Regions from separate parts of the Homo sapiens genome. Here region 1 is linked to region 2. The links come from fine-mapping of genetic effects on gene expression. A gene starts in region 2. The other region holds a variant in brackets. All regions are shown on one strand. Distances are from middle to middle.

The links. PIP is the estimated chance that this variant, and not a neighbour inherited with it, causes the effect. A credible set is the group of variants that fine-mapping cannot tell apart.
Region 1: its variant is the best candidate, but not a certain one, in a credible set for the expression of TGDS in pancreas (GTEx, PIP 0.52).

What each region holds. Positions count from the first base shown.
Region 1 is chr13:95,161,460-95,164,372 of GRCh38, forward strand. ABCC4 (ATP binding cassette subfamily C member 4 (PEL blood group)) reads right to left here. Exons shown (of 31, transcript NM_005845.5): 17 at 2,151-2,188; 18 at 1,663-1,757. Among named protein-coding and RNA genes, the nearest start is that of SNORD13G, 47 kb to the right of the region's middle. The variant G/A (reference allele first, on the strand shown) is at 1,534.
Region 2 is chr13:94,595,042-94,597,954 of GRCh38, forward strand. It overlaps TGDS (TDP-glucose 4,6-dehydratase), which reads right to left and starts at 1,111. Exons shown (of 12, transcript NM_014305.4): 1 at 1,010-1,111. The coding sequence starts at 1,095. RefSeq lists an enhancer at 975-1,284.

The DNA of each region.
Region 1 (2,913 bases), 570 kb after region 2:
TACATAAGTATAATGTATTTACAAAATACATTGACAAAGAAGGATTAAAATAGTTTATTTTTCTCTCACTGAATGGAAACTGCACAGAAAAGAAAAATCAGGTGTATAATACAATTTCATTCTAGGCTCTAATTCAATTGCAAGTTCTATTAAAAACTCAGAAGTAGGATAGATAATCATGAAGTGTAGTTGATCTTCTCCATATTCCAAATCTTATTACTTACATTATGTCCCATAATCTAAAAAAGGTGGTATGTTTTGATACCAACATGTGATATTAACAAGGAATAGGAGAAATGATTTACCTTTTCCTTGTAGAAAATGCCCAAGTAGCTTTAAAGAATTTAAAAATACCGTATTAAGTTGCATGTGGAAAACCTCTTGAATAATTGAATTGCAAGAAAACACAAATTATATTTTAACATAAGATAATTAATCTAAATAAGCAACTAATCCCCCACTGTTTTACATAGACACAAGACATTTTTAAATGAATAAAATAAATCATACATTTTATTAAGACATGAATGAGGATCCATTATTCACATAGAAATTAAAAGAGCTTTCCTAACATCTCTTCATTCACAATGCTAAATACAGTGGGGGTAACTTCTATAACAAATATTTCCCTTTCAGATGACATGTCACTGTTATTTAACCTCTGAAAGCAGCTCAAATTCCTAACTCCATCAACGGGCATTATCCTTAGCCTGCCATCCTACACGAACATAATAGAACATAATAGATTTCCTTCTTCCTTTAGTTTCCACATAGTCCATCAGTTGGAAGGTAAACACCTAACAGATTTAGATTTCTTAGCAAGCGATCGATGAAATAAACACCAAATTTCACTGAGTAGGTTCTTACAAAGATAACTCACTCTATCTCTGAGGAAAGCTTGTAGGAGCATTTCCTGTGGAAATATTTAAAATTTTAGATGAAGATTTTCTTTAAACAGTATGTAATGCTACATACATTCTAAGCACTCTTGTGAAAACAGAGTGTGGCGTTAATATTAGTCTGGCAAGCCAAATGTTAAATTAATCACACAGTTGGGGACGCGATAACATTGTGATCTCAAGGTAAGAAATAGAAGGCATCCTAATTCCCAGACACTGGATTTTTCCCTGCTCAGCTTCCCTCTTAAGTAATTAGTGAAGCCCAGGAGATGAGCAGTGCTGAAGGGAGCTTTGCATACCTGGGAGGGAATAATGCTTTTATTTTGGGGGCCTTGCTGCCAGAGGATTTCATCCAAGTTCAATAAAAGCCAGGGTTTATTTAGACAGAATTGGAACCATCCGAACCACAGGGTGGAGATCCGTTTCTAATCCCCCTGCCCATCCGTATAATGATATAAGATTTAGCTAAAGCAACCTATTAGAATAGACAATAGCCACATATTTCCAGTGGCTGATTTTCTGAATGCTCAATCCTGGTTTAACTTTCAAAATCCAGTACAGAGCAAATTAAGAGTCTTCAGTCAACCTCTCTTCTAGTAGATTTTTAAAATAATTATTCTAATTAATTCACAGA[G/A]TAAATTCGACTGAGACTCCTGATCTGTTAAGACATTACTGAATGACTCCTGGAAGCCCTAGTTACTCACACAGGCTCATTGTAAGCACCTCAGCCTCTCATACAATACACCAAATGATTAAACTTTACCTGAATAAATTCCTAAGTACCAGTTAAGATCTAGCTTCTCGGTTACATTTCCTCCTCCATTTACAGTGACATTTAGCATACTTTGTTTGTTTGCCCTATGGAACATGGGGAGAAAAAAATATTAAGCTATATATGAAATTTAGATAAATACATTTTTTTAAAAATGAACCACAATTTGGGAGAAACGCTTCATGCTGGAAAATGATTCTCAGCTCACTTAGTCTTGTGTATATCTACCTTATAAAAATTCAATTTAAATCACAACTTTCAGTTCCCGAAACTGTCTGTGAACATGATGCCGCGGATCAGACATGGGTGGAGACCACCGCAGTTTACACTCCACCAGCAAGCACTCTAATTTTTCTTCGGGTAAACGAAGTGAGGATTAGAAGAGAAGGATCAACAAACACCTCCCTCTAACTCTATGGAAAAGCGAGTCTTCTTACTGATTTTGGAGTATTTCATACATCAGACCAGAAATAACTTACCAGTATGAAAGCCACCAATCTTGAAGCACATAGGCAACCTAGGAGGGGAGAAACAACAAAGACAAAAATCAAACTTGGGCATGACTTACCAACTCAAAACTCTCAATCGCTAACATGGACAACCGAAAGAAAGCCCTCAAAGCCGGGCGTGGTGGCTCATGCTTGTAAACCCCAGCACTTTGGGAGGCTGAGGCAGGCGGATCAACTTAAGGCCAGGAGTTCGAGACCAGCCTGGCCAACATAGTGAAACCCTATCTCTACTAAAAATACAAAAATTAGCCTAGCTGGGCATGGTGGCACATGTGCCTGTAGTCCCAGCTACTCCGGAGGCTGAGACAGGAGAATTGCTTAAACCCCAGAGGCAGAGGTTGAAGTGAGCCAAGATCGCGCCACTGCACTCCAACCTGGGCAACAGAGCAAAACTCCATCTCAAAAAAAAAAAAAAAAAGAAAGAAAGAAAGAAAGAAAGAATAAAAGGCTCAGAGAACTCGCATAGTTCTTCCAGCTCAGGTCTGTGCCAAGCCCAAACTCCCAGATATCAAGGGTTCAAGAAAATGCATATTCCATTTTAAAATCATTGAAAGATACCCTTTTTTCGCAGGTCTTTGTAACGGACATGGAACACCAGTAGGCAGCCCTCACTTTGTTCCCCAAAGACAGCACATTTCAATTCAGACCCCAAGTGAACTGCAAGATGCAGTCATAATAGCATAAACATAGGTACTGTAAATATCATTTTGAGGGCGCAAAACAAATGTCATTA
Region 2 (2,913 bases):
ATATAATTTCAGGTAGAGGTTAAGTGTGCTAGTTGGGAGAGGGGCTATTTTAGATATGGTGGTCAGGTAAGAACTCTCTGAGGTGCTATCTGAATAAAAACCAGAATTGAGTGGTGCAAACAGCCTAAGGAAAGGGGAAGCAAGTGCAAAGGCCTCAAGACAGAAGTGTGTATCTTGGTGTGTTCCAAGAACTAAGAGGGGAAGCATGGCAGGTACAGAAAAGCAGATCAGGTTGCAAAAGTAGGGCTTGGGCACTTGAGTTTTCTAGATATGGTAGAGTTTGGGCTTTATTCTTAAGTGTGGCAGGAACCACTGAAGTAAAATCCTGCTTCTACCATGATCTGATTGACTTAAGAAACACTGACTTGTATGTGAGCAACAGGCTTTAAAGGAACATGAGTGGACGCAGTTATGGCCAACCAAGAGGCTACAGCAGCAGTCGAGGCAAAAGATGACAGTAAACATGGGCTAGGGTGGAAACGGGAAACTGGTGAGAAGTGGTCGCCGTAAGGATATACTTTGGAAGTAGAGAGGACTTGCTGCTCGAATGTGGGTCTGAGGAAGAAAAGGGTGTCAACAGTGGATTTGTAAAAGTTTGCTGATTACATAGATGTCCTATTATAGTCCTTAAATCGTTTTGGGGGTGCCTATATGTACAGGGCCCATCGTGGGGTGTGGGTGCTCTAGGCTGGAGGTGGGAAGCAGTCGGTGAGCAGCTTAGGGTAACTTGCACGCACTCAAGGAGTGACATGGTGAGCACCTCCGGCCACAGAAGGGCGGAGAGTAACGCAGCTTTGGAAGAGGCGTTTTAAAGAAGTCAGTTTCAAAGGAACCACTTCTTTGCAGGCCAGAGAGAGAAAAGCTGGTCCAGGTCGTGCATTAGGACCCTCCCCATATCAGAATAAGGACCCCTCAAAGCTGGACCCAAATTACCTAGGGCAAGCAGAGCTGCGGGAAAAGGTAGGGGTTTCTGGGGAGCCACTGCTTGGCTAGCGGCGCCATTACCTACATGAAACCAGCACCGCCGGTCACCAGGACCCGCTTCGCAAAGCCGCCGGGAAGACCCCACGGTTCCTCCCAACACGCCGCCGACATCTCCCAGCTCAGCAGTGCCTAGTACCGTAAAGAGTATGGTCTGAAAAGCGCAGGGAAGTTCCGCCGCGACCTTTTGCGACGCGCCTCGCTCGCGGGACACGTTAACAGAGCAGCCAGAGGCAGCTTCCGGAGACTGCTCTGTGGCCAGTTTCTGCCCGCCCACTAGCGGGCTGGGCGGGGCCGCGCTCACCACGCGCAGGCGCTGCTCCTTTCCGCCCTTGCCTGGTCCGCCAGGTGCAATTGGGGTCGCCCGGATGGTAGGGGTATGGAACGTTTTTCCCGGAAATGCCACCACTATGGATCAGATTTATGAATGAGTACCTTTTTTCATTCTTGTACTACAGCCATCTCTAGAGGTTACCTATCAGTTGAGCTGAGAACGGGGAGTTGTTGCAGATGGAGATGGGAGGTTGCAATTTAAAAATGATTTTTTTTTTTAGTGGGGCGGGGACAGGGTCTCCCTCTGTTACCCAGGCTGGAGTGCAGTGGTGCGATCACGGCTCACTGCAGCGTCGACCAATGGGGCTCAAGCAATCCTCCCACCTCAGCCTCCTGAGTAGCTAGGAATACAGTCGTGCGCCACCACGCCCGCCTAATTTTTGGTAGAGATGGGTTTCGCCCTGTTGTCCAGGCTGGTCTCGAACTCCTGGGATCTAGCCAACCTCCCGCCTCAGCCTCCCAAGGTCCTGGGATTACAGGCGTGAGCACCGTGCCTGGCCTGCAAAATGATCTTTTGCTGTTGTTAATATTATTTCAGGCCGGGCGCCGTGGCTTACGCCTGTAATCCCAGGACTTTGGGAGGCCGAGGTGGGCGGATCACCTGAGGTCAGGATTCGAGACCAGCTTGGCCAACATGGTGAAACCCTGTCTCTACTAAAAATACAAAAATTAGCCGGGCGTGGTGGCGGGCGCCTGTAATCCCAGCTACTTGGGAGGCCGAGGCAGGAGAATTGCTTGAACCCGGAAGGCAGAGGTTGCAGTGAGCCGAGACCGCACCATCGCACTCCAGCCTGGGCAACAACAGCAAAACTCCGTCTCAAAAAATAATAATATTATTATTACAGACAGCGCAGAAGGCTTGCAATCATGATAAAGATATTCCCTAGGTCCTACGCTGATGTCTTATTCTATTCTCTCCTTTGCTCACTCCGCCCCAGCCTCCCCACCCTCCTTGCTCTTCATTCAATGTGCCAGGCATGCTACTTCCCCGGGACCTTGATTGTCTTTCCCCAGATGTCTGCCTAGTTTTTACCCTTACTTCCGTTTTCAGCTTGAATGGCATCCTATTGACCACCACAATTAAAATAGCGAGCTCTGCCCAACCCTGCCGAATCATCTTATCCTTCTTTATTTTTCTTCCTAGCACTCAACATTTACATTGATGTCACTGCCCTCTGTTTAGTGTTCCATGAGGTCAGGGGCTTTGTTTTGTTTTCTGCTGTAATCGCATGTCCTTAGAGACTTGGCACAGAATAAATGACCATTAAATATTGTCGAATAGATAAATATCTTTTTTTCCCCACCATAATGTTTGGCAAAGCTGAAAACGAATGGAAACATCCAGTACAGGTGTATATGTGGAAGAATCATACCACAACCTTTTTACAAGGCAAAGTGGTAAAACATATGAAAATTTCAAATGTTCATATTCTATGACCCCCTCAAATTCCATGATGTATAATATAGATAATTGTTCATTGCTGTATTGCTTGCAATAATGAAACACTGGAAATAATCTAAATGTGTATAATGTCTTCTAACTTTTAAAATGCAGTAAACTGCTATATAGCCTTTAAAAAGAATATACCAACATGGAAT